2 separate regions of the Homo sapiens genome follow, and region 1 is linked to region 2. Evidence: fine-mapped expression QTL. A gene starts in region 2. The other region holds a variant in brackets. All regions are shown on one strand. Distances are between the middles of the regions. Region 1 overlaps ARMC8 (armadillo repeat containing 8). Region 2 holds the start of ARMC8 (armadillo repeat containing 8).

Region 1 (10,164 bases), 110 kb after region 2:
ATAAGCACCAACGGGACTTACTCACAGATTCAGTACAGGATGTTAAAGAGAGGAAAGGAAAATGTCTAGGGTTTTAGCCTGAGCAACTGGACAGAGGGTGTTGCCATATACCAAGATGGTGAGGAATATAGAAGTGGGTTGCGGTAGGGAGCATCAAGAGTTCTTGTTTGGGTATGCCAGCGTTAAGATGCATATTAGATATCCAAGGGACTTGGAAGAGCAGGGCTATAAATCTGAATGGTATTTAAAGCCATGGAGCTGGATGAAGTCTCTTAGAGCAAGTAAAAAGAGAGAAAGGAGGACTAAGGACCAAGATCTAGAGTCCCTCCAGCATTTAGGCAGTGATGAGAAAGATGCAGCAAAGGAGCAGAAGGAACAGCTAGTGAGGCAGGCAGAGACTCAGGCGCATAAGGTGTCCAGAAAACAAAGGAAAAAGATGCCTGGACGGTGGCCGTTTATCCTTCAAAACTCATATCAGGTTGCTATGTCCTCCAAAAAGCCTTGCCTGACCCACTCTCCACCCTCCCCTCCAGGCTTTGCCAGGGATGCCTTTTGTGCTCCTGTAGCATCTGTAGAACACGTCACACTGTGTCTTGGCTGTCAGGTTGTCTGCTCCACTGAAGGGGAGAGGAACTTAACTAACTCCTCTGAAGTAAATGGCTCTTCCAGATTGTGAAGCACACAGGACAGGCTAGGCCTCTGCTTCCCCGAAGCTTACCATCCTGTAGGCTAAAGAAGAATAACTAGGCTGGGCGCGGTGGCTCACGCCTGTAATCCCAGCACTTTGGGAGGCCGAGGTAAGCGGATTATGAGGTCAGGAGTTCGAGACCAGCCTGGCCAACATAGTGAAACCCCGTCTCTACTAAACTCCAAAAATTAGCAGGGCATGGTAGTACGTGCCTGTAGTCCTAGCTACTGGGGAGGCTGAGGCAGGAGGATCACTTGAACCCAGGAGGCAGAGATCGTGGTGAGCCGAGATTGCACCAGTGCACTCCAGCCTAGGCAACAGAGCAAGACTGTCTCAAAAAAAAAAAGAAAAGAGGAAGAAGAACTAAAAAACTGCAGCCCAAGGCTGCTGGTCAGATGAGTGTACCATCAAAGTCAAGTCCATCCACATGCTGAAGGCTGGATCTGAGCTTGTACCTTGAGGACTGGAACCTCCACCTCCACAGCTGCTGGCATAAACAGTGGGCTCTGTCAGCCCATCTTTTCTACCTGAGAGCCAGGTTGTTCACTGGGGGTTTTATCTCATATTTATTCAGAAGTAAAAACAAATTTTACTTAAAATCATCTCAAGGATGACATAGGATGGTAGGATAGGCCTTACCAGCATCAAGTGGGATAGGTTTAGCCTGCTTGCTTAGACCACTCTGGTGCTGTTTTCACATAAGTTTTTAGCTCTTCTTAAACGTAAACCGTAAAATAATAGAATCAAGGTCTGAGCTACCCAACCTGAGTCCATCTAAGAAAGGGTGATCTTGCCTCCAAAACCATTCTTCTAAAAAGACTCCTTAGATAATGACAGTAGAAAGACAATAAAGGTACAGTCTCTGAGACCCAAAATAATCAAACCTAGCCAACCTCTGAATAAGATCCAGAAGGAGTTTGAATTTGGCAGATTTAAAGAGCAATACAGAATTTCAATCAAGACCCTCAGTTAAGTACAGTAAGGTCTATCACCTGAAGAATATATCTCTCAGGTTCCTTTTGTCGTTAAGACTTTGATCCTTTGACTTTCAGATGCTTACAGATGAGAAGCTATTGCTAACCAGCCCTCTCCACCCAGGCTTGGAGGGCTTCAGGGTTGCAGGGTCCCAGAGCTCCCGCCTCCATCAGAACTGTTCTTCTCAGCCTCTTTAAGTATTTGGGGAGTCAGGTGGATGGTCTGTGGCATCATTCATAAACTTGTTTCTGAAAATGTCCTTGTAGAACCCTACTTGCTCATAACTTGGAGATAATCTTTCTAGAGCTTTCTGTTCTGATGGATTGGACTATTCACAATATCATCTTTAGAGTCTTATATAATTGCAAGAATACACCTTAGTATACCACTTAAAAAACTGTTGTGTCCATTACTGCAGAAACTGCACTTGAATCCAGCTTATTGTATGCATAGTCTACTTGGTATTAGTTTGATCAGCTATTGTACCTGAACATTGTAGACTTTCTTTCCATAGCTTAGAAGAGACCATTGCTGAAACCTGACTTCCTAACTCCCACGATTACAGCCTCTTTAGAAACTTTACCATGTTTGTGATAGGAATAGTAAAGGAGGCCTCCTTGGGCCCACCTCAAAGGAGGCCACTTTTACAAGGATCAGGATAGATTAAGTCACTGTTCACATTATTTTTTGGTTTGTTTTTTGGGTTTTTTTGTTTGTTTTTTGTTCTTTTTTTTTTTTTGAGATGGAGTTTCACTCTTGTCGCACAGGCTGGAGTGCAATGGCACCATCTCAGCTCACTGCAACCTCCACCCACCAGGTTCAGGCCATTCTCCTGGCTCAGCCTCCGAAGTGGTTGGGATTACAGGTGCCCGCTGCCACACTCGGCTAATTTTTGTATTTTTGGTAGAAACAGGGTTTCACCGTGTTGGCCAGGCTGGTCTTGAATTCCTGACCTCAGGTGATCTGCCCTCCTCAGCCTCCCAAAGTGCTGGAATTACAGGTGTGAGCCACAGCACCCGGCCTACATTCTATCTTTTCCTTTCCACCTGGCCACCTTCTTCCCCCATCACCGTAACAACACACATCTCACATTGATCAGTTATGGTGTCATCAGGTGTGATGAGAAGAACAAGATGAAATTGTAGCCTTCTTCCACGGTTCTGAGGCATGTGAAGCATAAGACAGCCTCATCCCATGGGCTCTTGGCCCCTTCCATGCACCTTCTAATCACCTCAACACCATTTCCTCGGTCAGTTTTCTTATTTGCTTCCCAGAACCCTAAGTGTTCTCCCTAGTGTTGTGCCTCACTGCATAAAACCTACATGGCAGTAAGAAAAAGTAAAGAATGTAAGACCTATCACAACTATATGCCAGTGACAAAAGAAAACATAGAATGTCAGCACATACCAGGGACTGTGGAATGTCACTGAGCTGCAGCAGGTTTAAGTGCAGGAACAGCCCTCTGAGAGATCCACAGGAAGAAGAATATAGCCAGAGTAGATTTCAGGTGTCTACCCACTGCAGATCTCTTCCCCTTAAGGTAGGTGCCCACCTGGGCTCACCCCAATTCCCTCTGGAGATTTACTTTTTTAGACTTCCCCAGCTATCATCATTGAACCATAGGGTTTTTTACCCCAATTACAATTCTGAGATGATGGCTAACAGGAATTTTGTGATTTCAGGGCAAAGATGGCACTGCAGCAGTACCTGGCATGATGGGAGTGCCCCTGGGCACCTGCGAGCATCCCACCTCCTTGTTTAAGGAAGTACAGGAACCAGCCTCATTTGATTCCTTCTATTTGCACAAGTCACCTTGGACTGCAGGGAGCTGTTTTGCAAAAGCAGTTTAGTAGGCTTAGATCTCAAATTCATCTTGAGAACATTTTTTTGAGGTAGTAATTTCCTCAGAAGACTCTTGTGTTTTGTTTTGGTTTTTTTTTCTGAGCTACTCGGACTCTTTATTAGAACAATCAATCATTTTCCTTTGGACCTACAATTTTTGCCTATGCTGCAGCCACTTTGTGAGTGAGAATGAATATGTCTGTGTGAACACACAGGCATGCGTGTGTATGTGCACGTACATGGGCCAGAATGAATGGATGTGTGTGTGTGAGGGATACCTCAGATTTTTCTTTTCTTATTTTGTGTGAAAATCTCTTTTCTACAGATT[T/C]TCCAGGGTTTAAGCATTGCTTGCTGTATAAAAAACTTTACTGAATTATATACAGTTTGAATGAAATGTTATTTTAAAAACAAAACAATTGTTAAGTGTTCCATAAAGGTTATGTTGAATTTTGGTCAGATGAATATTTGTAAGTAAAAAATATATGCATTTCTGAACCTCAACTTACATAGATTTTCTTTATATAAAAAAAAAGAAAAAAAAAGAAAAAGTTGGCTATAGTTGGCCTGATTAACAGGCACTATACATGGTGCTGTGCAAAATAGTAAGCTAGCATCTTACTGCCGTCAATATTAGCAGGTACAGAGCCTTTTTTCATCCTAATTCAGTAAGTTCTCAGGCTTCCAAGTCAAATGGAGAAGTAAAGTGAGGCAACAGATTCACCATAGGCTTTTTGAAGCATCAAAGGGAAATATAACTACTGATAGTGAAAGCCCAGCCATGACCCAGATGGGCTTACCCTTGACAGGAACTGGGGACCAAGAGCCTCCCAATTGCCCTAACTCCTGTCATTGGTATTAGCAATATCTGGCCAGATTTAGAACCAGTCATGGAAACTTGTGCTCAAACTAAAAGTAGGTCATCACTTCCCAGAAACAGAATACCTTGTGCTTCCTGAAACAGCATATATCACTGTGAAACTAAAGAATATTCTACAGACACCCCTGTAGAAAGAAACAAAGAACAGGATAGTTTAGAAAGCTTTCTGTTAGCTGTATTCAGCAAATTTCATACTAGTTGCTCAGGACTGCTAGTTGGTATGCTTTTGTAAAACGAGATTGAAATTTAATAAAAGATGCAACTAAAATCTTTCCTGCATGAAGCTAAAAGCACTCAAGTTGAGAGAGGGGCAAGGGAATCTCCCCAGGATGACTGAAGATGACTTCTTTTTACAGCAAGTACTGTTAGCCTTTCTGCACCCCTTAGCTTGGCCCCTGCTCCAACTTCTGGGTCAGCAGCAAGGTGAACTCAACAGAAGTTGCTCTTGACTGTTTGAAGGTAGAAGCAGCCTACCTTTTCTCTTTGCTAAAAGAAGGTCAAAGGCTTCGCAACCAGGATGCAAGGTCTGCGGTCCAGAAGCTTGCGGTGAGTGTGTGCCACTGATGGAGCTCCAAGCCCACCCACCAGCCACTCCTGATGGGGTTGCTCACACTGCAGCTGCCCTATCACCACCCTGCACGTTCCTTGGAAGATTTAAATGTTTGGTTGCAAATGAATGTTTTAAAAATGTATTTAATGCAATTTTTCCTGCTCTCAACATGACCACCCAAGATTCAAACACAGAGACTTCCAAGTTACTATTTTTTCAGAACATCACCGATTTTAAAATCTGTCACAACAGGACTTGGTTTTGTGCAGATATCAGAGTGCTAATGTGAGAAACCCAGTTAAAAGAAAACTTAGTTTATTGGGAAGAAAGCCTCAGGCCCACTCGTTTCTAGAACTGTGAAAATATCCTTGGTTGGCATTTTTAACACAAAACACTATAGTGTTGGTATTAAATAGTACTAGGTAAATATAAAGAAACCAATAATGAATTGCTGAGACAATCTTGAACCCAAATAGCATTAGAAAGCTGAAGGCCCAATGAAATAACACTTTCACACTTAAACTCTGTGGATAAATTTTGCCTGTGGGTATAAACAGATGGTCAAATTAAAAATGCTTTACTATAATTAACTTTTCTGATTTGAATGAAGGGAAATGTATTTATTGAAACAAAGCTGTTTGCTGCTTTATGCAGGTGCAGTGTTCAGTCAGCAAGGAAGTGGGAAGAGTGGACATGGTATTGTGTCTACACCCAAGTTCTTAACTAAGCTTCTCGCTCTAATACTGCATTCTGTTTCTCCTTTTGTGCCCTGATTGTAATCCAAAATTTATGAACTAGAAAAGAATGTCCAATTTAATAAGTTGCATTTTTTTTTCTTTAAGCACTTTATTCAGAACAATACATGTTCTTCTGGTAGTGTTTGGATAATATGATTTTAACACATGCTAATAAAAGCCAAGAAAAATCATGGCAACTTCTAAAAAGGAGTCTGTTTTCCAAATGTCTAGAACATTAGGAAACATCAGAAGATAATGTGTACACGCTTTTGGAACCTGTGATTCTTGGTAAATGAAGGGCTGGGAAGTGGCTTTGCATTTCAGAGTGGGACCCAGTGCCTTAAGGTAAGTGTGGTTCCCAGAGGCATCTGCAGCAGTCTGGGGACCCCTCTCTTTTTGGCCTCCTTCTGAAGGCCAGCAGACCCTTCACAGGTGGCCACTCCCAGCCACAAGATATCCCATCCCCAATATCATGTCCACCCCCTCCATCCTCTTCTCCTTAGGTATGCCCCATCTCCACTACCACCAGCTTGCATCTCCACTACCACAGTATGCAAGAGCTTGCTATCCCTCTGCAAGGACACACAGGTGCTCTTCGTCTACTACGCACTGCCACCTTTTCCCATCTCTGAATTGTAGGCACATCTCCTATCTCAAGGCCTCACTGGAAACAAAGCCAAGGACACCTGCGCCAGAGTGGCGGGAGGATGATGAGGTGGCTAGCAAGAGAGGGAATAATCATGGTGGGAACCTCTGAGAGGACCCAAGGTAAGGCGAAGAGAGTAGGAGCAGGGCCAAGCAGGCCCCTGTTTCCCATAACTACCACAGGAAAACTTGGAAGTGAGGTCTAAGGAGGGAAGGGGGACTCCCACCCCAGATCTTGATGGAGGGCTGACAGAACGGTTCCAATTTCTTGCCACCTGGGGTAGGAACTGGTGCTGTCCCCATCCTGCCCCTTGCCTGTTTACTGGGCAGAGAGGCACATGTTTATTTCCAGCATGAGAGAAGGTCCAGGATCTGGCTTTAGGGAAGGCTGAGGGAACCCCCCAAGGGCCACTGAGTGGACTACTAAGCCACCTTTTCTCTATCTCTGCAGCCCCTGGCTCCTGGCTTTGGCAAGCAATCTGCCCTCAGGCTGAGTGGAGGTCCAGAGCCAGTCCTTAAAACCACCCTCCTTGACTTCATGGAGCCCAGCCTGCCCTCCTCGTCAGGCACTCACACCCAGGAGCCGAGGGATCTTAAAGCCAAAAACAGCACCCATCCTTTACTTCCATATTTGCTTCTGTTGTGTGAAACCAGGCCTAGGGTCTCCGCCAGTGAGTTCCATCCTCTGGGAGTGGGCTGATATTTGAGCCACTCTCGGGAACCCCCTTACACCCCATTCCCCTGTTCCTTATGCCATGAAACTTGTGGACTCTTAGAGATGCCCTGCAATGCTGAACCCACAGCATCCCTGAGTCACCAGTAATGGGAGGAAGGGGCATGTCACCATTCCTCCCACTCCTGCCCCATCACCTAGTGCCCCACTTTGCTTTACCACTGCCCTGCCCAGCTACTTCATCCATCACTGACACAAGAACACTCCCCGCCGACAGGCTCAGTTCCCCAACCTCATTTTCCCCTCTCTCCCCTGCTTTGGGAGGTCCTGGTGGCTCCATCTCTCATCTCACCAATGTTGGAAGATCCTTGGCTTCCCAGATTCTGGGGAGATCAGATGGCTGTCAGCTGGGTGCACCCCCTCCAAGTAGCTCATTCAGAGCCACACACACCTGTGGTGTGGAAGCCCAGGCATAGGGCTTCTCCAAGTCGTTTGCCACTCGTGAAGTGGGCACAGACCATATGGGCCCCACTCTTGAGCCCACTCCCAAAGGGAAGAGCACAGCCCCATGGTGGGCTGTGAGTCTGGGGATCTGGAATAGTGCATCCAGCTTCCTGACAGGTCCTGTCAGTGAGGGCTCTGTTGGGCACATTGAGATCCTGTACAGGTTCCGATGAGCACTGTGGACATGTGTGTTTCCATCCAGGGGTGGCACGAGGTCCTGGGAAGGACAGTGGCCTTAAACAGTAGGGCCTACTGAAGGTCACTGGCCTTGGTTCCCAACTGTGGGGACTGACTTATCCGTGTGTCCCCTGAGCACAGAGTGTGTTGTGGTAGGCTGACGAAGTGTGATGCACCCACGAAAATGTCCTCTGGGAGCTAACTGCCCATTTAAAGAACCTCAAGTCATGGACAAAACCAGCAAGGAGGAAGACGCTGGCATTTGCTTCGTGGTGTAGAAAATGGCCTTCTCCTCAGATAGGAAAAAGTATGCCGGCACTTGGCAAATTTACAAATAAAGTCGTTAGAGGGGGTGGCATTGTGTGCTAATAATTCCCAAGTGGTCATAATAGCTACTTTTTACTGAAATCCTGTGTCCCTCCAGGGAAGAACTGCAGAGGGATGGCTAAGCCAGGCAATTCAGTGGGAGCTGAAGGCAACCTGGCCCCACTAGGAGCTCTCAGCTTTTAAATTTAAGTGTCAGCCAGAATCAGAAGCCAGAGAAATGGGGGAGGGATGCGTCAAGAAAATTAGATGAACCCTGGTTCCAAATTTAATGTCTGAGCATTGCTTTATGAACATGCCCTGGTAATGGAGAACTGCAGATGGGGAAATCTGGCAGCATTAAATGACTGTTGGTGTGACTTGGGCAGGCAGTGTGAGGAAGCATTTGGAGCCTATTTATATCTGCCTCGGCATCAGTGTGCCTGGAAGTGTCATAGTCAATCTTGCTGCACTGTTTTCAAGCTCATGGTTACCAAATTAAGTTCTAAAATTGTTTAATTCATAAGGTAGATTTATTGTTGGGGAAACACCATCTCATATAACCCAGTATCCTCTGAGATGACACTTATATCTCACAACAGGATGTAATAACTGATGTTCAATTATTTTGTAAAATCCCAAAGACAGAGAAAAAAAACTGCGTTCTACATACTGTTTAATAAGGCAGAAAAGTATATACTATTCTCTTTCTTTACTTTTTTTTTTATTATTATTATTAAGATGGAGTCTCACTCTGTCACCCAGGCTGGAGTGCAGTGGCATGATCTCGGCTTACTGCAACCTTCACCTCCCGGGTTCAAGCGATTCTCATGCCTAAGCCACCCGAGTAGCTGGATGACAGGTGCACACCACCACGCCCGGCTAATTTTTTGTATTTTTAGTAGAGACAGGGTTTCACCATGTTGGCTAGGCTGGTGTCAAACTCCTAATCTCAGGTGATCCACCTGCCTCGGCCTCCCAAAGTGCTGGGATTACAGGTGTGAGTCACTGCGCCCAGCCATATTATTTTCATTGTCTACAAAAGACAGCTAAACCAAAAAGTATTGGTACTCAAAAGAGTAAGTTCCGATTCCGGAGGTCTGTTTTGTGCAGTAGACCCCTGGTCACGTGCTCTGGAAGAGCAGCACAGCCATCTCAATCCACATCCTCAGGAAAGCAAAGCGCCTCAGTGGGCCCCGCTGTTGCTTCAGCCTCACCGCCTGTGGGATGACAGATGTTTGGTAGGACTCCTGAAACAGCCCTGTCCCAGACCTTCTGTCCCACCCACCATCCACAAAGAAATAGGAAGTTAAAGGTCAGAGCAGGAGGGTCAGCAAAGAAGTCCTGATACGTGTTAGGGACCAGGAATTAAATAAATTAGAATGGATAACATTGAGCATTTAATTTGTGTCAGATGCCAGACCAAGAGCTTTACATCCTGTCTTTCATCTTCACAACAGCTCTATGATGAAGATTTTTATTATGAAGCTATTTGTGGTTATGACGAGTCTATCATTATCTCCATTTCACAGATGAGGAAACTGAGGCCCAGAAAATGTAAGTAACTTTTCAGAGGCTCTTCAGCTGGGGAATAGTGGAGCCAGGATTCAAACCCGGGATTGTCTATCACCTTGACTCCTGCCTTTTTTTAGCAGGAATAGTGCTAACTACAGTGGAGGCATATGCTGCTCCCCAAAGCTGAGAGACAGTGACATATCAGAATAAATGGGCAGAACAGCACCCCAGCCAGGCTGCCAGTGTCCAAAGGAGGCTGTGCACTTATTCCCAGGATGTGGTCTGCAGATAGCCCCTTTTCTTATCACCTGAGGCCAAAAAGTCAGTCTCATGATCTTCCAGCACTCCCAACAGCCCAGTGAGAACTTCCCAGCCACCTGCCACAGACTTGGCTCTGAGTTACAGCCATTTGCTTCCAATCACCACCCCCCATTCCCAAAAGCTTGAAGGTGCCCCACAACCCTGGACACATAAGGAAATGCATCATGGACTCTCTGAGGGCAGGTCCCAGAGGAAAGCTGGCCTGGAGTGTCAGTGGGTCTCTGATCCACATAGAGCCACACTTCCCAAGAGTTCCTGGCTCCCCAGCCTCTGTGGCACGCTCAGCTTGTTCCTCAGCTGGCAGTGGGAATAATTCTACTTCATAGAGCAGTGGCAAGTCCACCTATTTTGACTTGG
Region 2 (10,164 bases):
CACTTCAGGTCAGAGCTTGGGTGCCAGCTCTACCATAAGGCCCTCCTATGATCTCAGTTCTGGTGAGGTTTCTCTCCTATGTACTCCCTTGGCCCCACACCCTCTCACTTACCACCCTACAGTGTAGTGACTTGTTAGCTTGACTCTCTACTTCTTGCCTGAAAGCTCTGTGAAAACAGGGAATATATCCATCTTGTTCATAATTGTATTCCACTCCTGGGCATTGTGCCTGGCACATAGTAGGTACCTAGTATATCTCTATCTATCTATCTATCTATCTATCATCTATCTATCTATGTTTTGTCAAATGAATAAATTTCCAGGATCCTTAGCTAGGTTCTCTTTTGTGAAATTCTTTTCATTATTAAAATAAATTAAAAGAGTTTCTTTTTCATTATTAAAGAAAAACAGTTGCTCAATCCACAGTGACTCAATTTTTTACACTTACATTTTTCATTGTGTATTTCCTAAAAACAAGGGCATTCTTTCCATGACAGCAGTACAATTATCAAAATCAATACATTAGCAATGATACCTTATCTACAGACTTTATTCAAATTTTTCCAATTTTCCCATTGATGTCCTTTATAGCAAAAGAAAAAAAAGTTTTCCCTTTTCTGAGATCCAATTACAGATCACAGGTTGCATTTAGCTGTCATATCATTTTGGTGTCCTTTAATCTGAAACAATTCCTCAGTTTTTCTTTCATGATATTTTTGAAGGGTATAGGTATGTTATTTTGTAGAATATTTCTTAACTAGGGTTTATCTGATGTTTCCTCATGATTATATTCATGTAGTTTTGGCAAGAATACCACAGAAGTAATTTTGTGTTCTTCTCAGTGCATGATATCATGGTGTTTATTGCATTACTGGTGATACCAATTACAATGACTTAAATAAAATGTTACCTACCATTAGTAGGTATCTAATGGCAGGTACTCTACTATCCTTAGTATCTTGTAGAGTGATACTTTAAGACTGTGTAAATATCCTGTTTCTCTTAATATTTTCACCACTTAGTTGTGGCATCCATTGATGATTCTTGCTTGAAACAATTATAACTCACACAGTTGTCAAGTGTTGATTTTCTTTTCTTTTTTTTTTTTTTTTTTTTTTGAGAGAGAGTCTTGCTCTGTCACCCAGGCTGAAGTGCAATGGCACGATCTCAGCTCACTGCAAACTCTGCCTCCTGGGTTCAGGTGATTCTGGTGCCTCAGCCCCCACATAGCTGGGATTACAGCTGTGCGCCACCATGCCCAGCTAATTTTTGTATTTTTAGTAGAGGCAGGTTTTTGCCATGTTGACCAGGCTGGTCTCAAACTCCTGGTCTCAAGTGCACCCGCCTTGGTCTCCCAAAGTGCTGAGATTACAGGTGTGAGCTACTGCACCCAGCCTGATTTTCTAATTCTATCATTTCTTCTACATTTGTAAGTTGGAATTCTACCATAGCAGTAATTCAATTTTTAAATGAGTATTTTCTTTTTTACTGTGGTTTCTAATTTTAAAACTTTGTAAACATCTCACTACTTCTATTTTAGCCATACACATATTTCTTTTATTTTCTTTTTAGTTTTTATTCTGAGACATGGTTTCACTCTGTCACCCAGGCTGGAGTGCAGTGCCACCATTTCAGCTCACTGCAACCCCTGCCTTCTGGGCTCAAGCCATCCTCCCACCTTGGCCTCCCAAGCAGCTGGGACCACAAGCTCAAGGCACCATGCCTGGCTAATTCTTGCTTTGGTTTTTTTTTTTTGGTAGCAAAGGGATTTTGCCATGTTGCCCAGGCTGGTCTTGAACTCCTGAGCTCAGCTCAAGTCAGCCCATCTCCGCCTCCCAAAGTGCTGGGACTACAGACATGAGCCACTGCGCCTGGCCAGGCATATACATTTCACACCCTCTGTGGACCTGATGAATTATTGATGCATTATTTCCCACCGCAAAAGCCCTTGTGGACTTTCCTTTATAGGTTGGTTGCTTAGATGAACATTCGGTAGTCTCATCTGGGAAAGTCCTATTAAGTCCCAGAGGACTGTAGGAGCTCTGGAAAGAACTTTGGAACCAGAGAAACCTGTACCAAAATTGATTCAGCCTCTTACTCCCCAAGCAACCTTAAGCAAATTATTGAACCTCTCACAGTCTCATTGTTTTTTTTTTGTTTTTTGTTTGAGACAGTGTCTTGCTCTGTCACCCAGGCTGGAGTGCAGTGGTGCGATCTCAGCTTACTGCAACTTCCACTCCCAGGTTCAAGCAGTTCTCCTGTTTCAGCCTCCCGAGTAGCTGGGATTGCAGGCAGGTGCCACCACGCCTAGTTAATTTTTCTATTTTTAGTATCGACGGGGTTTCACCATATTGGTCAGGCTTGTCTCAAATGCCTGACCTCAGGTAATCCACCCACCTCGGCCTCCCAAAGTGCTGGGATTACCGGCGTGAGCCACTGCGCCCAGCCTCACAGTCTCACTTTTATTCCTGTCTGCTGAGGGAAAGAACCATGTCTTTGTTCCACTTCAAAACTCTAGTTCAGTGCATTCACAAGAAAACCTGTAGTTAGTGTCTGTTGAACTGCATTGTATCTCCTCTATACTGTTGTTAGTCCATTTTCTTTTTTATTTAAAGTATTTCATCTGTTTTCCTTTTTTTTTTTTTTTTTTTTTTTGAGACCGAGTTTCGCACTTGTTGCCCAGGCTGGAGTGCAATGGCGCGATCTTGGCTCACCACAACCTCCGCCTCCCGGGTTCAGGCGATTCTCCTGCCTCAGCCTCCCGAGTAGCTGGGATTACAGGCATCCGCCACCATGCCCAGCTAATTTTTTTGTATTTTTAGTAGAGACGGGATTTCTCCATGTTGGTCAGGCTGGTCTCGAACTCCCGGCCTCAGGTGATCCACCCACCTCGGCCTCCCAAAGTGCTGGGATTACAGGTGTGAGCCACCGTGCCCAGCCCGTTTTCAAGTCTTTTTAAAGATTCTTCTAAATTTCTTTTGGGACCATTCAGGTTTTGGATTATACCTATCTCCCCACACTTTAAACTTTCCTATTTTTGTATAGATACATTTCTCTCTGGCTTTGTTTCTCATCTTAGGCAGTTCCACAAAGATATTTATAAAGATTTTTCAGATTTTTTTCTGGCTACTTCTTGTTTTGCATTTCATTTTTTTTCTTCATTAAACTCACACTTTGTTGTCTTTTTTTTTTTTTTTACAGAAATTAATACTGCTCTAAGAGCCATGGAACGACAGGGAGAAGTTTCATTTCTGTTTGCAGAGTAGTCAGCATGGATATTTTCCTCTCCTCACCACAGTGCCAAATTTAACTGTTTTTGTTTTTTTCTGCAACCTCCACTTCCCGGGTTCAAGCAATTCTCCTGTCTCGGCCTCCCGAGTAGCTGGAACTACAAGTGCATGCCACTATGCAAGGCTAATTTTTGTATTTTTAGTAGAGATGGGGTTTCGCCATATTGGGCAGGCTGGTCTTGAACTCCTGAACTCAGGTGATCCATCAGCCTCAGCCTCCCAAAGTGTTGTGATTACAGGTGTGAGCCACCGCGCCCATGCTTAACTGTTTTGTTATCGTCACATGCAGGCTGAATCAAAAATTCCTTTTATCTTCCAATTTCTACTCATTACTTAAGAGTGTACCTAAAGTTATTTATCAGCAAAATTTGAACTGGGAGCAAGATTCCTGATCTCCAAGCTTAGGAGTTGGCTATTCAATGCTTTCTTCCTGTAAAATGTCTATGTCAGTCTTCTGGATATAAAACAGGAAAGCCTGGGTAACAGACAGAGGTGTGAGATGTCTTGAGTCACATTTCTAGCTCCTCCCCGCTCGGATTTCAGCCACAGCAGCAGTGACAGTTCTGTGCAAGCTCAGATTTATGCTGCCTATATCCCACCCTAAGATGAAACCTGCAGACTCTGCTTTTTTGTATCAGGTTAAAGAAGCCCGTTCTGTTCTGGGCACAAATATAATCCAGGAGGGCAGGGAGTTAATAGCCCTAGGGAAATCCTCAACCAATACATATGGTATTGGTGGATGAATGCTGTAGCTTCAAGATGGACAATCCAGAGAGGTATTCTGTATGTTTTCAGAGGTGATTGAGGAATAAACAGTGGCATCAATAATGGACAATTATCTTGAATATTTATTCTTTCTTTTTTCACTCTCCCTGACCTATCAATTTTGTTCCCTGAAAGCACTTACTAAATAAACAAAATGCACCCAAATCTTCGTCCCAGGCTCAAACTAAGCCAAAAATTCGTACAACAAACATTTACTAAGTGACTGTGCTAGGCACTGAGATAGACAACCTAGAAGATAAAACTCCCAGTGCCTGTCTTGAAGTGTATAGTGAGACAAACACGGAAACAATTAACAACAACAAAACCACCCTACAATTAAAGTGAAGTATGAAGGCATGGGGGAAAGGGTATCTAACCCATGCCTGGGGGAGACAATTCCTGGAGGATGTATTGCTTGAGCTAATGGATGGAGTGTGGATCAAATACAGTTATAATGACTCTATATACTATGTATTAGGGTTATGTTCTGCCCCATTGCAGTATGCAGTACATGATGTGATTTTAGGTGGTCCATGGATGGACATTTAAACTTTTTGTAGTTAATGTGTACTAGAATAAAAATAAGGAGCACAACAAACTTGATTTCACAGAGTATTATGGTTTAGGATAAAGCCAAAAATTTTTAATGAGTTGAAATTGGCTTTAAATAAAAATATTGAATGAATAATAATACCTAGGTGCAGATTGGCAAAGATTGTGTAGGTGGTGTACAGATTACCCAAGTTTCAGAAATAGTATTATAGCAGAAGGACTACCTAAAATAAAATTCCTGCCTTCCAGGAATTCAACAGTTTGTTAAGGAACACAGACCCATAAGCAGGGGTGGTAAATGCTACACTAAATTTGGAAACCAAGTACAGGAGGAAGACAGGAAAACAGTGAGGAGCAGAGTGCGGGAGAGGCTACCAGCTACAAGACCAGTTGGAAGGCTATTGCTGTAGTCCAGGGGAGAGGTTACAAGAGCCTGAATTAGGGTGTGGCTATAGAAATGGAAGGAATACAAGTAATGTTAACAGGCCAATTGCAACCATACTGTGAAAACCTTACTGGTTGCAAGCAGTACGAAGGTGAAACTTATCCAACCAAGTCAAGGGCAGTGTTGCACACACACACACACACACACACAAAGTAGTAGGACAGCTGAATTAATCAAGTATAATTGAAAGCATACTTTTATTTAGCTTCGGTTATGAGAGTGTTTTAGTGCGAAATATTTAGATATTTGCCCCCATTTTCCCCACTTAACTCAGAAGCTGGAGAAATGTTAACACATATTGTATAACGCTTTCTATGTTCTAGGTTTTTTCTGAGAGCTTCACGTTTGTTGACTCCTCTATCCTCATTAACCTTTATTTTATAGATGAGGAAACTCAAACAGAAGGTTAGATAACTTGCCCAGGGTAAAGCAGCTGATAAATCAAGTAGCTAGGAAGAAACCCAAGCATTCTGGCTATTCTTAACACTACACCAGAATAAACGGGGCCGGCACACAACGCTAAGGCAAGTCACGTATCTGTATCGGATCGTGAAACAATCACTCTTACGGTTGGCAAAGGTTCTGGGATCGCAATTTCCCCACCTATAAAATGGAGATAACGACGCCGGGAGTTTGGTGCAGAGAGAGAGAATGAATATGAAAGTGAACTTCAAACTATGTATGTGGCTCCACGTACTACTTTTTCCAAATATGAATACTGGAATCCATAAACTGCAATTTATCAGTCCGTAAAACTCGTAGCGTCAGGGCGAGACTCCGCCTCTGGGGCCCCGCCCACCGCGAGCGGCAGGTGGGGCCGGCAGATCTTCTTTGCGCATGCGGAAACCGCTGCCCGCTTCCACCTCTAACCCAGGCTCAGAGTAGCTGCTGTTTCTGAGAGAACGATTCGTAGGACAGCCCCTGACGCCATTCCCTTTTGCCCTTCTTTCTGCGGGCCTTTCCGGTACTTGAGCGGTGTCCAGAGCGTGGCCAGTTCTCGTCTATCTGGCTGCCTTTAGGGAGCGGTGCCTAGCGTTGGCCAATAGTTGGCTGTCGAAAGTGCCGGCCCCCGCGCCGGCGCCTGCAGCAGCCGGGTGGGAAGGCTCAAGATGGCGTGCTTGTTGGAGACCCCAATCCGCATGAGCGTCCTTTCGGTGAGTGACCCGCCGCGGCCGCCCGCCCGCCCTCCAGGAAGCCTCATCCCGGTCTCCACCATTCCCCCAAGCGTGGTGTGCCTCCTGGGCACCACCCCCTGGGGTGGACCCCGGCTCAGTCTCGGGCCAGGGAGTGAGCGAGGGTGGAGAGGCGGGATAGACGGGCAGAGGGGACCGCGGCCGAGCCAAAGACGTTTCCAACTCCGGGAGCTCCCGCCGGTGCGGGTTCCCAGGATGGCGTCTGGCAGGCGGGGTGGCTGGGCTTATAGACAACTGGCTGGGCGGCGCGGCTTGGACTTTGCCAAGCGTTTCACTGAGCCTTCCTTTTAGCGATGCCGCTTCCCGGGGGCCGAACGCTCTGCCTTGTGAAGCGCCGGGCTTGCAGCCGGCCTGAGAACGAGCGCCCACTCAGCTCTCCCGGGCTTTGGCAAGAAGAGGTGCAGGCTCCTTGGCCCCCATTTCCTCAGAGCTGCCAGGCCAAGTCTGTGCGGCTTCTATCGCGTCCCAGCACCTGGGCACCGGCTGAAGCAGTTTGCTTTTTGGCAATGGTGATTCGTATCAGCTGCAACTCTTCCTAGTGTGTGTGGTTTTTTAAGCCCCTTTCCTCCGCTCTGCTCAGAGGTCGCGGCTCTGAGTCAGAGGAACTCTATGTTCCCTGTGCCTGGTATTCCGTTTTTCTTTAAGGGGAGTCAAACATTGAAGGGGGGAAAAGGGGGTGAGATTTATTTCCCCATTGTTGAAAGAAGGGAACGTATTGACATGCCAGGAAGTAAAACCTGTTTTTTTTTTTTTTAAAAAAAGTTTTTTTAAAGAAAAAGACGACTTTCACCTTTCACTATGTTGCTCTTGAACCAGGACCAGGAATGAAAGTTACTGGGAGATAACTTCGAAGGATTTTGCAACAAATTCGAGCTGTCCGACTCTGAGAATGGTCAGTTTACCAATGGTTCATTTGCTATTGTTGGAAACAAGCAGGCAAATACTGATTGACCATCTTTTAGACTTGTGGAAGCCAGTCTGATACTGAGAGGGTAGTTGGATTATAAATGACTTGTCGGGTTCCTAGAGTCTTGTAACTACAACCGGTTTCTTTTCTCTTCTCTGACTTGTCCCACAAACAAACTCACCTATCTGAAAACACCTAGGACATTTGCTTATGATTCAGGGTTAGAGCAGTGTGGCAGACCTCAACCTTGAAAAGGCTTAAGTTGTCAATACAATAATAATTTTGTGAGGCTGTCAACAGATTTTTCCCCTGATCCATTTTAGCAGTCATTTTTTCTTATTTTTAAACTGCAACTAAGGAAATACTGTTTACCTAAGTATTAGATCAGATTAGCCTGTTACTCCATCACTGACTGTAATACCCAGGAATATTCTGTGGGAGTGCAGGCCAATGACTTTTACCTCATTATGTTAAAAAAAAATAGTATGTGTCTTGGCTGTTCTCAGTTCTCCTTTAATTATTCATTTAGATTTCATTTATCCTTCAGTTCACCTGAAGTTTACTTTTTGGATGTTGTCAACTTGTATAATGCATATGATTGAAAGTTTTCATTTGTTTCACTTCCTTGGTAAATAATATTTTCTGCTTATTTTATTCAAAAACTTCTTGAAGAGTATTTTCTATTAATACTTCTATTTAGGATTTGCCTTTAGCCCTAGTCTCATTAGGGGCTTTTTTTTTTCTTTAATTAAAAAAAAAGGATTTCCGTAGTCCCAAAGTCTGGTCTATCAGATCTTCACTCCTAGAGCCTTGGGGAAGTAGGAGCTTTTGGATAAATGATTTAAAATGTTTCAATTCACTGATTTTACTAATTTAAAGTGAAACCTGTACCTTTCAAAGTACTACCCAGAGCACCATGTTTTGAAATGCAAACTAGAACAGGAAACATTCATCAGAAATTATCTTGAATGGTTGATTCCTTTAATAAGCTACAATGTACCAGTTACGTACAAGCTCTGTATTGTATACGTTAGAGAATGCAAGGATGAGATCAGAAATGCGTTTCAGGAGCTCATAGTCTGGGTGACGCTATAATTTGATAAACATAATTTCAGCAAGGAGGCATTCAAGTTGTTTTAAAGGATTTCCATTTGAGTCTCTTTATACCTTCTCCTTGGGAAATCTCATTGATTTTCCTGTACCCTTAACTGATCAGTTCACACATCTGCATTGCCAACCTTGACTTTCTTCTACATCTAGTCTTACATCTTAAATTGTGTGGATGACACCCATCGCTTCCAATAAAGCACATTCCTTCTCCTAAGGGGAATTAGTTATGAGTTCCCAATTTCTGTTAATGGTGTTATCTTTCACTGATAAGTAACTGTTAAACCTCCTGAATAATCTCTGATTCTTCCTCCTTTCATCCCCCTGTATCTACCAGTTGTTAAGCTCTGTTGCTTCTTTATTCTTAGTGTTTCTTATATCTTTCTCTTCCCATGACCACCCTCATTCAGGACTTTGTTGTTTTGTGCCTGCACTACCACAGCGTCCTTTTAATTATTTTTACTGTCTTTAATGTCTTACACTCTCAGTGCAAGTCCATGTCTACTTAAATTTTCCTAAAGAACTCTTCCTACAGCCGCTCCTCGGTTTCTTTTCTTGATTGAATTTGTTTTGCCCAAAGGCCCAAGTTTATATTCAGCTTCAGAGTTGAGATTCTTTATTTTCTTATCTTTTTTTTTTTTTTTTTTTTTTGAGATGGAGTTTTGCTCTTGTTGCCCAGACTGGAGTGCAGTGGCGCAATCTCGACTCACTGCAACCACCGCCTCCGGGGTTCAAGCGATTCTCCTGCCTCAGTCTCCTGAGTAGCTGGGATTACAGGCATCCACTACCATGCCTGGCTAATTTTTTTGTATTTTTAGTAGAGACAGAGTCTCACCATGTTGGCCAGGCTGGTCTCAAACTCCTGACCTCAAGTGATCCACCCACCTTGGCCTCCCAAAGTGCTGGGATTACAGGTGTGAGCCACTGCACCCGGCCGAGATTCTTTATCTTCTACATGAACCTGCTATCCTGTATAAACCGGCTTTCTCAGGTTAGAGTGATACAGAATTCTTCCAAACTCCAGTAAATCTTATTCTTCTTACTCATTTGTACATATGAATTTTAACTTTGTATATATATATTCTGTACATCTACTTTGAGCTTCTGCCATTTGCTAGGCAAGCATGGTGTTGAGTTTGGGAATACAGCCGTAAGCTACACAGACCTCTGTCCTTTTGGAAATGTTAGCCTAGTGGGAAAAATAGATATCAAATAATCACACAGTTTGTGAATGGTGATTAGTATTATGAATGAAGTATATAGGGTGCTGTTCAAAACATGTCATAGAGGAAACTGATCTAATATGGAGGGCAATAGGAAGAACTAGGGAAGGTTTCCCTGAAGAAGTGATGCTGAGCTGAAAGTTCAAGGATAAGTAAGAACTAACTAGAAAAAGTGACAGAAGAAGAGCATACAAGGCAAAGGGAACTGCTTTTGCAGAGGTCTTTAATAATACTCTATCTTGTCGTATTAGAGAGTAAATTAATTCAGAAGTAACACTTTGTCTTGCAAATCCTAGGTACTCAGTAAATGTTTGATTGAACTATCTATTTTGGAGGGTTGGACAAACTCTCCAGCCCTGTTTCTAGACTGCACTATGACCACCCCATCCCTCTTTGGTTTGCATTTAACATTACAACATCACCCTTTTCAACAAATTCATAAATTTCTGCAATGTTTTCTATACTTTTGAATTATGTTGATTGCATTTTTAAAAACATTTATTTTGAAATAATTATAGATTCACAGGAAGTTGCAAAGATAGTACAGACAGGTCCCTGTGTACACTTCACCCAGTTTCCCTCATAGGTTACATCTTATATAGTTACATTATAGTATCAAAACAAGGAAATTGATCTTGGTATAAGTATGTATCTGTTTCTGTATCATTTTATCACATGTTTA

Evidence for each region.
Region 1: its variant is fine-mapped to the expression of ARMC8 in blood mononuclear cells (TOPMed, PIP 0.93).

Annotation. Positions count from the first base shown.
Region 1 is chr3:138,292,514-138,302,677 of GRCh38, forward strand. It overlaps ARMC8 (armadillo repeat containing 8), which reads left to right. Exons shown (of 22, transcript NM_001363941.2): 22 at 3,346-5,860. The coding sequence ends at 3,379. NME9 (NME/NM23 family member 9) reads right to left here. Exons shown (of 11, transcript NM_001349018.2): 11 at 8,486-9,191. The coding sequence ends at 9,127. Among named protein-coding and RNA genes, the nearest start is that of NME9, 32 kb to the right of the region's middle. The variant T/C (reference allele first, on the strand shown) is at 3,834.
Region 2 is chr3:138,181,394-138,191,557 of GRCh38, forward strand. ARMC8 (armadillo repeat containing 8) reads left to right here and starts at 5,908. Exons shown (of 22, transcript NM_001363941.2): 1 at 5,908-6,206. The coding sequence starts at 6,162.